Regions from separate parts of the Homo sapiens genome. Here region 2 is linked to region 1. The links come from fine-mapping of genetic effects on gene expression. Tissue or cell type: whole blood. Region 1 holds a variant in brackets; the other region holds the start of a gene. All regions are shown on one strand. Distances are from middle to middle.

The links. PIP is the estimated chance that this variant, and not a neighbour inherited with it, causes the effect.
Region 2: it holds the start of UBXN2B, and the variant in region 1 is fine-mapped to the expression of UBXN2B in whole blood (TOPMed, PIP 0.99).

What each region holds. Positions count from the first base shown.
Region 1 is chr8:58,457,920-58,466,031 of GRCh38, reverse strand. No RefSeq gene overlaps it. Among named protein-coding and RNA genes, the nearest start is that of CYP7A1, 38 kb to the left of the region's middle. The variant T/C (reference allele first, on the strand shown) is at 3,104.
Region 2 is chr8:58,407,586-58,415,697 of GRCh38, reverse strand. It overlaps UBXN2B (UBX domain protein 2B), which reads right to left and starts at 4,337. Exons shown (of 8, transcript NM_001077619.2): 1 at 4,229-4,337. The coding sequence starts at 4,312. RefSeq lists enhancers at 3,892-3,941, 4,222-4,271, 4,282-4,341.

The DNA of each region.
Region 1 (8,112 bases):
TGAGGTTACTGTCACGTGCATCCGTGTGAAGAGACCACCAAACAGGATCTGTGTGAGCAAAAAGGCTGTTTATTTCACCTGGGTGCAGGTGGGCTGAGTCCGAAAAGAGAGTTAGGGAAGGGAGATAGGTGTGGGGCCGTTTTATAGGATTTGGGTGGGTAGTGGAAAATTACAGTCAAAGGGGGCTTTTCTCTTGTGGGCAGGGGCAGGGGTCACAAGGTGCTCAGTGGGGGAGCTTCTGAGCCAGGAGAAGGAATTTCACAAGGTTAATCGCTCAGTTAAGGTGGGGCAGGAACAAATCACAATGGTGGAATGTTATCAGTTAAGGCAGGAACCAGCCATTTTCACTTGTTTTGTGATTCTTCACTTGCTTCAGGCCATCTGGATGTATACGTGCAGGTCACAGGGGATATGATGGCTTGGCTCGGGCTCAGAGGCCTGACAGTTAATAAGGCATAGAGTTTAAATGCCTTGACCAAACGTCACTAGCTGGTAAATGAAGTCAGGTGTCAAACCAGGCCTGTCTCCAAAGCCTATATGCCATCACCATTTACATTTTTGAAGACATTTTAACTTTAGTATGTATTTTAAAAGAAACATTTTCTGGATAGCCAAAATATTATCATAATTCACAAAAATTAATCATAATTTTTAAATATACCCTGTCCATATTTCACAAACCACCTTCCAAATATCATTTACATCTGGTCTATACAAACCAGGATCCTGTCCAAGCCACACTACTTACCTCTCCAATGTAGAAGAGTCTCTTTTTTTTTCTCAATGACACTGATCTGTTCTGTAAAGTGTTTCACCTTCTGAATTTGTCTAATTGTTTCGTTGTGGCAACTGTTTATTCTTCTATATGTTTCCAATAAACTGAAAGTTACATCTAAAGTCTTGATAGGTTTGGCCGGCAGTGGTGGCTCACTCCTGTAATCCCAGCACTTTGGGAGGCCCAGGCGGGCGGATCACGAGGTCAGGAGATCGAGACCATCCCGGCTAACACGGTGAAACCCCGTCTCTACTAAAAATACAAAAAATCAGCCGGGCGCAGTGGCGAGCGCCTGTAGTCCCAGCTATTCAGGAGGCTGAGGCAGGAGAATGGCGTGAACCCGGGAGGTGGAGCTTGCAGTGAGCCGAGATAGCGCCACTGCACTCTGGCCTGGGCGGAAGAGTGAGCCTCCGTCTCAAAAAATAAATAAATAAATAAATAAATAAAAAATAAAGTTCCCATGGGTTCAAATTAAGTGTTTTAGTTGAAAGTGCATCATAGTTAATGTGTATACACCATAGGCAATTCATTAGGAGATGGATAATACCTGGTTGTTCTAGCATTAGGGGTGCTAAGTTTGGTCAATGAATTGGGATGATGATGGCCTTATTCTCTATTGTACAATTTTAGTCTTATCCTGCCTCTGCCATTGTAAATTTATGATTTCCCCCTTGTGAAAAGAATGTGATCTTTTTTTTGATGTTCCTTAAGCAAATCACATACGAAATTCACTTCCCCACCAATTGATCACCTAACAATTTTAACATCAACTGATAATCCTTGCCTGAGTCAGTAATTTTCATCAGGGCTGCAAAATGGTGAATTTTATCTTTCTATCTATTATCATCTATATTTATTAGCTCGCATTCTTTTGTAAAGTACAGCTTTGACTCGTCAACTAGGGCTACTAGTTACTCAGAAATACCGGTCTTACTGGAAAGGCAGAATAAATGTGTAATACTTCCCTTTACTTACCAATTTTCAAAGTAAGATGTTGGTTTAATGGCCACCTCAAATGGTAACAAATAGGTTTTTATGACTTATTTGAGAGTTATGATGGACTTAACGAATTTTCCTAGACCCAGTGTGTTTCAGTTACCTACAATCTTGTTGTTCAAATGGTGGCAAATTAGTCCAGTGGGAACCCCATCTACGAGGTTTTTGTGCCCTTTTGAAATGACTCCATGTCTTTGAAAGCTTCTTTACTTTGGTCAGAAGATAAAGTGGGCTCACCTTGTGTTTCCCTGTCTTAAATCTGAAATCAGCCATTTCTTCAAGGAGTCCTGCTTACTTTTAGTGAGCAATGATACTAGAGATCAAAATTTGGGTTTGAAATGATATTTTTTAAAAAAAAACTAAACTATAGTCTTAAGGTAAATCTGTTTCTAACTTGACTTTGTTCTTATCATGAATTTCCCCCACATTATTAAATACTCTACCAGGCCTTTTTTTTTTTTTTTTTTTTTTTTTGAGAAGAAGTCTTGCTCTGTCGCCCAGACTGGAGTGCAGAGGGCAGTGGTGTGATCTCGGCTCACTGCAAGCTCTGCCTCCCGGGTTCACGCCATTCTCCTGCCTCAGCCTCCTGAGTAGCTGGGACTACAGGCGCCCGCCACCATGCCCGGCTAATTTTTTGTATTTTTAGTAGAGACGGAGTTTCACCGTGTTAGCCAGGATGGTCTTGATCTCCTGACCTTGCGCCTTGGCCTCCCGAAGTGCTGGGATTACAGGCATCGCCACCACGCCCCACCCTGTCTACTAGGCCTTTTTAAGTGACTGAATGGTGCTCTATGAAACTATTATAATTTTTGATGAATAGGCTTGTGCAGTTAAACTTTCTTCAAAAAGCTGTTAAGCATTAAGTCCAGGAAAGGTAGTGGTCCTATAAAATTTTCACTGAGTTTAACCTACTTGTTAATATTATACCCTACAAACCAGTCCATAGATCTTACTAGACTGAAAATGTTTTCAATAAGAATTCTCAAATTATCTTACCAGAGAACTAACTCAAATGGAAGGCAATAAACAACACAAGTTATAACTTCCCTAGATTTGCTCACTGTTATTCACTGATTTGTATCATTTTTCCATTTTTAACCATGTCAGGACATCTTTAAGCACTTTGTTGGTTAGTGTTTAACTTTGTGAAACAATATCAGAATTCAGAACTAAAGGAACAGTTTCTTTTTTTTCCAGCTTTACTGAAGTATGATTGACAACAATTGTGTATATTTAAAGTGTACAATGTGACATTTCGATACAAGTATTGTACCTGAGCGAGTTAGAGAAAACGCCACACTTTGAGATGAATTAAGAGTCCATTTATTTAGC[T/C]GGCGGCCAAGAGATGGCTAACGCTCAAAGTTCTCTGGGCCCTGAAGAAGGGGCTAGATTTTCTTTTATACTTTGGTTTAGAAAGGGGAGGGGGGATCTAGTTAAAACAATTTTACAGAAGTAAAGTAGGCAAAAAAGTTAAAAGGATAAATGGTTACAGGAAAGTAAACAGTTCCAGGTGCAGGGGCTTTAAGACTATTACAAGGTGCCTGTAATCCCAGCACTTTGGGAGGCCGAGGCAGGCGGATCACGAGGTCAGGAGATCCAGACCATCCTGGCTAACAAGGTGAAACCCCATCTCTACTAAAAATACAAAAATTAGCTGGGCATGGTGGCAGGTGCCTGTAGTCCCAGCCACTCGGGAGGTTGAGGCAGGAGAATGGCGTGAACTCGGGAGGCAGAGCTTGCAGTGAGCCGAGATTGTGCCACTGCACTCCAGCCTGGGTGACAGAGCAAGACTCCGTCTCAAAAAAAAAACAAAAACAAAAACAAAAACTATTACAAGGTGATAGATGTGGGGCTTTGGGCGTTATCAATCAGACGAATTCCTGGGAACTGCGGATATTGCTTGCCACAGTATCTTATCAATTAATTGCATTCTTGGATGTGCTGGGAGTCAGCTTGCACAAGTTAAGTCCTTGAGGAAGGGGCTGCAAGTGAAAGAGCCAAGATGGAGTCTGTCTGGCTCTCTTAGCTAAGGGAGAGTCAATTCAGGTGGAAACAAGGCTAGGTGATTAAAGGAAAGGGAGAGTCTAAGAACAGGGTTAGTAAAAACAAGGTTGGGCATTACAGTACACATTGTGAAATGATTATCATAATCAAGCTTCATCAACTCACATATTTTTTGTGTATGTGGTGAGAACAATAGCAATCTAGTGTCTTAGCAAATTTCAAGTATGCAATATATTATTATTAACTTTAGTCACCATGCTGTATATTAGGTCTTCAGGACTTACTCATTTTATAACTGAAAGTTCACATTCCTTGATCAATAAATCTTTTTCCCCACTCCCCAACCCTTTGTAATCACCGTTCTACTGTTAGTAGGAGTTTAAGCATTTTTTTTTTTAGATTCCACATATAAGTGCTCATGTGATATTTGTCTTTTTATCTTTCTGTGCCTGGCTTATGTCACTTGGCATATTGTCCTTCAGGTTTTTCCATGTTATCAGAAGTGGCAGAGAAAAACTAGAAAATTCCTTCTATTTTTTTTAAGAATAAGTAATATTCCATTGTATATATGCACCATGTTTTCTTTATATGTTCGTCTGTTGTAGAACACTTAGGCTGTTTCCACACCTTTGTGATTGTGAATGATGTTGCAGTGAACACGGGAGTGTAGACATCTCTCAAGACAGTGATTTTATTTCTTTTGGACATATACTCAGAAGTAGAACTGATATGCGGAAGTAGGATTTCTGGATCAAATGGTAGTTCTATTTTCAATCTTTTGAGGAACGTTCATATTGTTTTCCATAATGGCTGTACCTGAAGGACCATGTTCTAATCTCCTCATTCTGGAGATGAGAAAGTTGGGACTTGCAGAGTTGGTGGTAGAGGCATGCTTAAAAATTTGGGACATCTAATTCCTATGCTAATTCTCTCCATTTTCATTTTGCAGTTCTGCCACTTATATCTCTGTTAGCACACTTGATAATTGTAAAGTTGCAACAACATTTTGCAAGAGGGAAAGGTAAAAATCAAAGTATGCCAAGACCAGCTCGGTCGGGGAGACCCTAACCCAGCGGCGCTAGAGGAAGTAGAGACACACACACAGAAATACAGAGGTGTGGAGTGGGAAATCAGGGGTCTCACAGCATTCAGAGCTGAGAGCCTCGGACAGAGATTTACCCACGCATTTATTGACAGCAAGCCAGTGATAAGCATTGTTTCTATAGATTATAGATTAACTAGAAGTATTCCTTATGGGAAACAAAGGGATGGGCTGAAATAAAGGGATGGGTCTGGCTAGTTATCTGCAGCAGGAAACATGTCCTTAAGGCACAGATTGCTCATGCTATTGTTTGTGGCTTAGGAATGCCTTTAAGCGGTTTTCTGCCCTGGGTGGGCCAGGTGTTCCTTGCTCTCATTCCGGTAAACTCACAACCTTCCAGCATGGGTCTCATGGCCATCATGAACATGTCACAGTGCTGCAGAGGTTTTGTTTATGGTCAGTTTTGGGGCCAGTTTATGGCCAGATTTTGGGGGGCCTGTTCCCAACAAAAGTAGAAGTTGTGAGACCTTGTGACTGCAAAGGTAGAAAAGAGCTAGGAATTAAAATCTGATAAATCAGAATTTAGCCAAGGAAAACAGAAGGAAATATGGAATAGGTTTTTTTTTTTAAAAAAAAAAAAGGAAAAAGACTAAATTTTCTGGTAGTGCATTTAAATAAAGAATGCATTATTGAGAAGTCAGGGGAGCACTCAGTGGGGCATTTTAAATGCTGTCCAGGGAGCATGGTCAGTGAGCAATACACTCAAGTGATGGACATCTGGTAAATATCTGATGGGCAACATGACCCTAAAAAAAACCCAAGGTCGGCCGGGTGCGGTGGCTCACGCCTGTAATCCCAGCACTTTGGGAGGCTGAGGCGGGAGGATCACGAGGTCAGGAGTTCGAGACCAGCCTGACCAACATGGTGAAACCCCATCTCTACTAAAAATACAAAAATTAGCCAGGCATGGTGGCGCATGCCTGTAATCCCAGCTATTCAGGAGGTTGAGGCAGGAGAATCGCTTGAACCAGGGAGGCGAAGGTTGCAGTGAGCCAAGATGGCACGACTGCACTCCAGCCTGGGCGACAGAGCGAGACTCCGTCTCAAGAAAAGAAAAAGGGAAAAAAAAAAGAACACAAGGCCTACTACACTGACACCATCAATATTTTTATGTTTTGACATTAGCTATATTACATTTCTGAAAATGCCAATCATATTCAGCCAAGTATTCTTCATCTATACTGCAGGAGATCACGGAAACCATGGCTACATGATACTCATGTCTGGGTAATTTCTAATTCTTATTTGAACAGGTAACTTTGATCCTCTCCCTTCATTTTATTAACGCAGCTAAGGGAAAGATACTGGCATGGATTCTTTCCCAGGACCTATACACCCCCTGGTGGAGACAAGAACAAGTAACCAAATTCCCATACCCTGATGACCTGATGTTAACTTGTCAAAAGGTAACTACTGTATAAGATTTTGTTTTACTACAAGTAGCACCTTGATTTTGTAAAGATTAACAGGCTCTATGACCTTAAGTATTTATTGCCAGATAATGACATGTCGGGGGGGAAAAAAACATAGTTCGTCACTCATTGTTACCTGACGTGGCTCCTCGCCCATACATACCTATCAGTAGGTGGAAACCACACAGTTCCTTGTCTTACAGACTGGGTCGTTGTATCAGATCCAAGTCACTTTGTCAAAGAAGTGAAAATGTAATAAACAATAGTACTCTTGATATTTCTAATTGCTGCCAACCAGTGATATCTGATGTAGTCTTCTCTTTTCTGGCTTACAATTGAATAAGAATACCAGATTCTTGCACTAGATCAATGTAAAAAAAAAAAGAATTTGATATTCCTATCTCCAGTTAAAGAAAAACATAATACTCTTATAGAATTAGTGCCAGTGCCTTTCAAATATTCTGCTTTTTCTGCCACATCATTTTTGATGTAATAAAGTTTCTACGATAGGTTTGAAAAACAAAACAAAAACAGCAAACATTCAAGGAAAATATATCAAAACACTAAAACACATTAAAACACTCCATACAAGAAAGTTAAACAGAACCCAAACTACCAAATCTTCATACATTAACATTTCATCTGAGGATGCTTTTGGCAGTGAGGCCAAAAATTACATTTGCTGAATAGCCTTCAGAAAATTACTTAATATGCTGAATACTATTTGATATGCTGCATACTCACCATATTTGCTGAATATCCTTTAGAAAACTACTTAATCCTTTATAATAATCTACAAAATGAATATGTCAATATCTCTGTACCTACACTGCTAATTACTATTAAGAAATAAGGACAATGTTTTTTACCCAAAACTGCAGGACAATGGAAACTGAATCATACCAACCCATAAGGAGATACTGACTTCATCTCTACTCACAATGTGATTCTTCACGTCACTTAACTTTTACCCATGAAAATAATGGGGATAAGATTTATTCTGCTTATCTCCAAGGGTTCTCATGGAAGCTGTATTTTTGAAATAATGAATTTTGTATAGGAGCGAAGAGCTTCACAAACTCAAGTGCTGACATAGTAGAGATATTTCAGGATTTATGTTTATATAGGCTTTTACATTGTTGGTATTTATAGATACATCTCCATTTACAAATTAGATGACCCCAAGTGTTGAATGTAAACTGATTTTTGTAGTTAAGTCATTCAGATTGCACTTAAAGGGACTCAATAGAGAATCATCAATAAACAACTATTTTATTTTGCAGTTGAATTGGCACCAATACTAATGTTATCTTATATGTAAAGATATTCCTGATGAAAGCTGTCTGTGTTATAGGGCTTTGCTCTTCTAATCCTCTAGTAAGCCTTGTCAGAGCTGATGGTGCCCCACCTCTGCCTTGCCACTGGCAAGATTCCATTCACACTTGGTACTTCTCCTGACATGTTACTGTCAGGAGAACTCAATGTTCCAAGGAAAGGTCCCAGTGAGTCAGAAAGTTTTGAAAGTAATATTTAGAAGTATATGGAGAACAATGAGAAAAAAGAACCCAAGAAGAATGGAAGTGAAAGTTTATGGAGTGTTTGAAACTTTATGGAAAGTTTATGAAAGTTTATTGAAAGTTGGTTGGAGATTTAGAAGTATATGAATAAAACAAAAAACCGCCACCACTACCCTACCCTATTTACATATAGTATGAAGATTTAAAAAATATTTTGGGATATTTACAACTAGTAAAAGTAAATACCAACTTGCTTACAGTAGGAAGAATAATGAGGAAATAAACATGTTTTTGCATATACTTAAA
Region 2 (8,112 bases), 50 kb after region 1:
CTGAGCCTTAGTTACCACATCTTCAAATGCCTATAAAAAATCACCGTAGTCATTTGAAGGATTAAATAATGTATGGAAAGCACAAAGCATGTGTTCCATCACTAGAAGATATTATTCTTAAATGTTTAGTAATGATTGTATCAGTGTTTCATTTTCCCCAAGATTTTTTTTTCTTCCTACAGTGTTATATCTCCTTATGGTCCTTTACTACTCCATCCCCTCCAAAAACACAAAACAAAAAACAAACAAATGATAGAGGAGAGAGAGACAGACATGCACATACACAGTCTGATGACTAGGGTCTAAAGTTTTCAGAAATTTTACCTCCCTGAAATTTCTTTAAAGTAGTATTATTTTATGGATTTCCTTCTAAGCTCATTATGTCAGCTTTATGAATTACTTTTATGATATTCCTATTCTCATCAATGAAAATGTCATCTGTATTTCAAAGGCCCATTTCAGCTCTCCTTCACAAAACCTTTTCTAATCTTCTTAATATCTTTTTTTCTAAATACTCATAGCACGTAATACCCCCAATGACATTCATATTAAGCATTATGTTGTCATTACTTGTGTACTTTTGCTGTTTTATTTCCCCAACTAGATTTTAAGTTTCTCAAATTGTTTCTAATATTGTACCTAAAAGGCAACAAATTGACGTTGAATTATATAAAGAACATAATAGAAAATGAATCAGAAATAGATATAGATAGATGTATTTTAAATTGGGGTTATATTTGTTAAACACTTTTTGCTTTAACAAGATTTGAATAAATGCTTCCAATCAAATAACAATTTTCTTTGGTGACATAAATTAAAAAAGCAAAAATGCCACTAGCCCCATGGAATGTGGAACATACATTAAGAAAAGAGGAATATGAGGAAAATGATATTAAAGAGTCTACCTGGCTGAAAGATCCTAGTTATTAACGGTACATCATTAAAAACTTAGAAGAAAATGAGTAATATTTAGAGGGAGTTGATGCCATATGGCATCATATGGCATGAGTTCATTAGTAAATACTACAAAGAAATTTAATTTATATTATTTAACATAGATGACATTACATCAAAAGAGGAAATGATAATTTAAATTGATAAATATTAATTGAAGTACTGGTCAAAACTAACACAACAAAAAAATCTCAAAACGTAATTAAGAAAATGTTTCAATAATATGCAGAGGATAAAGTATGTAAGTAAAGTATTGATAATCTTTCCTCTAGAATTTGAAATGTGAAGAACTTGAAACCTGAAAGCAAAGGAATCGGGTGAGAAAATAAAGTATATAGCAAAATATTAAAAGTATTGGAATTCTCAGCCTTAGAGTAACCAATTCTAGACGCTGTAATAAATGATTATTATACAGACACCTGGGAACTTCTAGGAAATGCATATGCTTAAACTCTACTCTAGAACCAATGAATCACACTCTGGGGTAGGGCCCAGCAATCTCTGACAAGCCTTCCAGGTCACAGATGCATACTAGAGAATCAACGATACAGAATAATGACATTCAATATGATTAGGGTACTTGTGGCAACACAGTTATCAGAACAGCTATCAGACATTTTAATTCTTCTCATTTATAGTACCCACTATTGAGTCCATCCTAACAAATCCAATCCTAACCCTAACAATACTGAAGTTATCCCTGTTCCCACTCCCTCCCCGTCCAACCTATGTAGAAACAGATAATATGTGGAGGAAAACTGGGACAGAGTATACAACTAAATACCTTAATGAACATGTGTGTGGCGGGCTGAGGGACACCAGAAGAGAAAGCAATTCAGAAATACTATTGAACACTGGTGAGGTTTTGGGCTTAGTTTTGCCACTAACAATCCCACCCCTAACTTTCCCCATGACCATCTCCTTATTTGAGGGGGATGAAGGGAGCTATGAAAATCTACTCTGATATGCAAAAAAACATTTCCGAGTCTGCAGTTTGTAACCTGGGGGCTCCCAGGGCTGGGAGGCCTTTTGGGAAGCAACTATGCAGCTTTTCTCTGGTGGTACCTGGAACACTCCCTCCTGATTCAGATGCTGACAAACCCTACACTGCATGGCAGCTAAGATACACTTACTCAGGGGTAATTCTGCTTGTTCCAATTGGTAATATGTTGCCCCTTTACTCACTCTGAAAGACTCTTAGAGCAAGCTGTTAGGGAAGTAAGAAATATCTACTGAAAGCTGCACGAACTGCGTAACTCTTAAGAAAAGCATGTCTAGATTAAACGGTAACAAGATAATCTATAAATAATCAATATCCAAGGTACCATTTGGGAAGAACATTATTTAATTCTTTTAAACTTTTGATACATACTTTATTTCTTGATATGCCATCCCTTTGGCTGTTTTCAAGTTTCTTTGCAAGTTCTTCACATTCATATTAAGTTCTAAAGGAAAGATTATCAATACTTAGATACTGTACTTGATACACCAAATCACATTCATAAAGAAATCAGTTATCTTCCTACTGCCCTAACCTACAACAAGTAGACAGGAGATGAAAAAAAAAATCCCCATCATAACTTAGGGTGGAAATGAAGGCATTCTCACAATTAGCAACATCTACCAGAGTATCTCCAAACATTAATCGTACTTTGATCCACTGGATTAAGACTGCAAACAATTTGCCAAGAATCAGGTGGTCATTAAGCAAGCTGTTCTCACTTTTCACATAAAAAGAAGAAATGGATTTAAATTAGGGAAAGGACATTAAGTTACACACTCTATTAACTTTAATGATATTAGAATTGACTAGCCAGGGAAAGTTATAGCATCTTTCTCCTGAGGAAAAAGGAATCAAATATTTGCCCAGCAACAACTGAGCCAGGATAATGTAGGAATTTTGCATAGGCCCTTTATAACATTATTTAATCCTTACACCACCACCAGCACCCTGACCTTCCTCAGTTTACAAATGAAGACACAGGATCAGACAGGTTAAGACATTTCTCCTAAGTTCACAAAACTACTAAGTAGCAGGACTAAGAGGCAAACCAAAATTGGTGGGACTACTAACTCCATGCTGCCTCTTAGTGATGTGGGTTTATAATAGGAAAGATGAGGTACACAATAGCTTCCTATCCCTTGATACTGTTTACTACTACTGAACCAACTATGGGAGCTGGAACTATTCTACATTAAGTTCACCTCCTAATGTTACACTGATCTCTCCAGCCTCCAAATTCTTCGCTTTATGCACTGCTTATTTTGGCACCCAATCATACTCCATCTTAAAATGTTATGCTAAGTATTCATACCCTATTTCTCCGAAGAAATCTGTAGGCTTCCAAAAGGTAGAACTGTCTTTTACACTTACATACCTACCCATCAATAGAGTTCAGCACCGACTAAGGATTTGATGTCCTTATTTCCACATTCGCAAAGCTCAGCAGTATGTTACAATGGATGGTGGTTTGTTCACATTAGAATGAAGTGTGGTTGTAAAGTAATACAGTAAAACTGTTCTACCAAGATTCTCCTTAGTATCTCCTTACTGATATTTACTTGTCAAATTTTTATCAATAATCTTATAATGAGACACAAAAACGCCTAAAATGAGAAAAGTGGCGTTAGTATCTGATAAAACGGGATTTGGTGCGCTACTATTTAGCTAACTAATACTAGTGTCCTACACAACATTACGAAATTTTATTTCCCAGTTTCTTCAGTGCAATGTTTTAAAGACCACAGCTTAGACAACTAGGCTGTATGGGCATAGAGTGCATCGCTTTCCTTCACCCCTTTAAAAGAAAAACCTACCTGATAAAATGGAACCATTTTTATATTTAAGTAAGCAAGTCAGAAATAGCATCCAAGACAAAAAAGAACAAATCACGTATCATTACTGTTCAGGTGACTGTCTACTTCCCTGCGGCCACAGTAACCTTTCTTCTGGAGTAAGTCTCAAGAAGGAAGCATCAACCCGTGAACCGACCAACTGACCCCGCAAAATGTCATTCTAAACGAATAGCTATTTTTACATCATACGTGGGGTGGAAGGGAGACAAAGCACCAGCGCTGGAGGCTTGGGCACTTGTGTTCACGACCACCACAGTGTCAAGACCCGACATCGGGAGACCGGGCGCCGGATTCTATCCCCAGACGGGGTCGGGGAAAGGCTCCGCCGAGGCCAGAGGTGGCCTCCAACTCGCACCAGCCCGCGCCGTCACCAGCCCGCGTCCACCGCCGCGCTCCCTCCCCCGGCTCCTCGCCTCACCTGCAAATCCCGCGCGCTCGGAGGCCGCGGCCCGGAAGACCTCCTCTCCTGCTCGCCGGGCTCAGGGCCTCCGCCCTCCGCCATCTTCCGCTGGCTAGCGGCGCCCGCTGCGGACGCACCTGCCGCAACTTCCGGGGCCGGTTGCCTGGCAACCGCAGGAGGGGCGAAGACGCGCAAGGTGCGTGCGCGTCCCCGCTACCCGAACCCGCGCCCCCGCTTCCGGTGCTGGCCCACCTTTTTGGTTTCTCCTTTTTTCTTAAAGGGAGTTTCTCCGCAGGGAAACCTCTGTTAAGTTTTGTGTTGCTCCTGCTACTCGCCTAAAGGCACTGTAGGCCGCCCTAGAGGGCAGCATAGACTTGCAGATTCATTTAGCTCAACAATGAAAACATCCTCTGGATTTTTCATCTGATGAAAAATTGCAACCTCTCCATCTAGTCTTGGTCAGATTCTCTGATCTTTCCTATCAAGGATTGGATGGTACATCGTCACCACAGCGTGAATTAGCACTGAGAGTGAAAAACACCGTAAAAAGTGCTTGGAATAATTTGCTAAAAGCAGAACTCTGCCGGGCCTGTGGCTCACGCCTGTAGTCCCAGCACTTTGGGAGGCCGAGGCGGACGAGGTGATCGAGACCATCCTGGCCAACATGGTGAAACCCCTTCTCTACTAAAAAAAAAAATATATATATATATATATATATATATATATATACACACACATATATATATACACATATATACACACACATATATATATACACATATATATACATATATATACACATATATATATATATATATACACAAAAATTAGCTGGGCGTGGCGGAGCGTGCCTGTAGTCCGAGCTACTGGGGAGACTGAGGCAGGAGAATCGCTTGAATCAGGGAGTCGGAGGTTGCAGTGAGCCGAGATCGCGCCACTGCACTCCAGCCTGGCGACACAGGGAGGATCCGTCTCAAAAAAGAAAAAAAGCAGATCTCGAGACTATCAAGCCCTCGTCATTCAACTGAAATTGATTTAGACTCTGGTCTTCTTATCCTAGGCACTTTTTGTTTTTGAGACGGAGCCTCGCTCTGTCGCCCAAGCTGGAGTGCAGTGGCGCGACCTCGGCTCACTGCAGCCTCCACCTCCCGGGTTCAAGCAATTCTCCTGCCTCAGCCTCCCGAGTAGCTTGGACTACAGGTGCGTGCCGCCATGCCCGGCTAACTTTTGTATTTTTAGTAAAGACGGGGTTTCACCATGTTGGCCAGGATGGTCTTGATCTCCTGACCTCATGATCTGCCCACCTCGGCCTCCCAAAGTGCTGGGATTACAGGCGTGAGCCACTGCGCCTGGCCTCCTAGGCACTTTTATGCCCAAGGGATGCAAAGGTAAAAAGAAATAGTCCCAGTCATTATGAAACTCAGTCTAGTAGGGAAAAGAGACATGTAAACGGGTAAGATGCAGCTTGCAGTAGAGCTTTGCTTGGGAGGGTTACAAAGGAAATGTGAGCCATGTGAGGGGAAATACTCCGTTGGTATCTGCTGTGTGCACCATGCTAGGTGCTGGAGTCGACAGCTTGCCGCCCGAGCTTTGGCATACTGATCGTTTTGATGTATAAAGGCATTTGAGGCTGGGCGTCGTGGCTGACGCCTGTAATCCCAACTCTTTGGGAGGCCGAGGCAGACGGATCACTTGAGGTCAGGAGTTTCAGACCAGCCTGGCCAACGTGGTGAAATCCTGTCTCTACTAAAAATACAAAAATTAGCTGGGCGTGGTGGCGCGTGCCTGTAGTCCCAGCTACTTGGGAGGCTGAGACAGGTGAATTGCTTGAACCCGGGAAGCAGAGGTTGCAGTGAGCAGAGATGCACCATTGCACTTCAGCCTGGGTGTCACAGAGAGACTCCGTCTTAAAAACAAAAAACAAAAAACAAAAAAAAGCATTTGATAAACAGCAGGTGCAAGAAGAGCACTCTGACCTTTTCTTCCTGAAAGCAGGAAAAGAAACTACCATGTGATAGATGCCCTCCCTATACCAAGAGGAAAGATACTCATCACCAGAGAAGGGGAGTTGAGGCCGAGAAACATCTGTACAGATATTGTTAAACTAACCAGTATCTTCCTAGATACTCTTCCACGATTGCCTCTCTTTGTTCAACCTAGTATATAAGCACTTAGGCCTAGCCACTTCTTCGGGTGTTTATTTTCCTGTGAGGACACCCACTTATACGTAAAGTTTTATTAAATAAAATTTGTATGCTTTTTCCCTGTTAATCTGTTTTGTGTCCGTTTAATTCTTGGACCCAGCTGGAGACTCTGAGAGAGTAAAGGAGAAAATTTTCTCCCCCAGCTGTGCATTCCCTGTGTAATTTCATTTATCCCTCTACCAGGTAGTTATGATTATCTTGTTATACCCGAGGAAACCAGATGATGAAGACTAACTTCACCCTGTAGTAAATGGCAGTGCCAAATACTAAACTGCACTTGTTTTCCTGATACTCTCTTAACATCAGATTCTGCCCTAGAAATCTCGGGCTCTTTAACAAGAAATGCCTCATAGAGCCAAAGACATTTTAGCTGAGTGTTGAAGGAAAGTACTTCCAGTAGAAGTATTAGACCAGAAAGAATCTTGGTAAAGGCAAAGATATTTACAAAGACACTGATATTTAAAATATTATATTCATGTCAGCAAATTGCTATATGGTTGCAACTTAGAAATGACAAAAGATGGTTATGGAATGGTGGGGAGGAGACAGATGTAGAATGGAGGCTTGAGACAGATTCTGAAGGATCTTGCCTTAGGTTGGGGATGGAATCCTCTGAGCCAGTGATTCTCTAACATTCTTGTACATTAGAATCACCTCTTCTCTCTCGTCTCCAGGTACTCAGATTTATTAATAATTGGTATAGAGTGGGAGTCAGGCATCATATTTCTTAAGATGTTCGCAAAGTGGATTTTGCTGCTGGCCATGACAGTATACCTGATGTTGGACTTGTCCTCCCACTCTTAACAACTAAAAACAACAGTTTTAAGGCATTGAGCAACAGGCAGTACAGGTCTGTGATATCTGAAAGAAGGAAAACGAACAAGGTGACTATATTTGCCCAGGCTCTTTATTTTTATTTATTTATTTTTTGAGATAGGGTTTCTCTCTGTTGTCCAGGCTGGAGTACAGTGGTGCAATCACGCCTCACTGCAGCCTCAATCTGTCTAGTTAGAGCAATCCTCCCACCTCAGCCTCCCGAGTAGCTGTTGCCTTGGCTTTCTGCATGGAACTCTCATACACTGCTAGTGGGTCCTAGAATGGTACAGCCACTTTGGAAAAGAGGTTGTCAGTTTCTTCTAATGTTAAATATTCCATTATCATAAGAACCAGCAATTCTACTCTTAAATATTGACCCAAGAGGGATATAAGTATACATTTATAAAGTATTTCAACTCAAATGTTCATAGAAGCTTTATCTGTAATAGCCTGTAAACTGGAAACAATCCAAATGTCCATCAGCCAATGAATGGATACAATTTTGATAAATCATACAATGGAATACTACTCAATAGTAAAAAGGAAGAAGTTATGGATTCACATGTCTTGAATGAATCTCAAAGATATTATCTTGGGTAAAAAAAGCCAGGTGCGAAAGAGTAAATATTGTCTGATTTAATTTATATGAAATTTTAGAACAGGCAACACCTTTAATGACTAAAAGCTGGTGGTAGCTTGGGGCTGTCTTTTGGAGTAAGGATTCAGTTCCCCAATTGTAGGACATGTAGGAACTTTTTGAGGTGACAGAAGTGTTTTATAACTTGATTGTGGTGGTAGTTACACAGGTATGTATTAATACGTTTGTTAAAAGCACACTGTATACACTTAAAATGCATGCATTTTATTATATGTAAATTATTC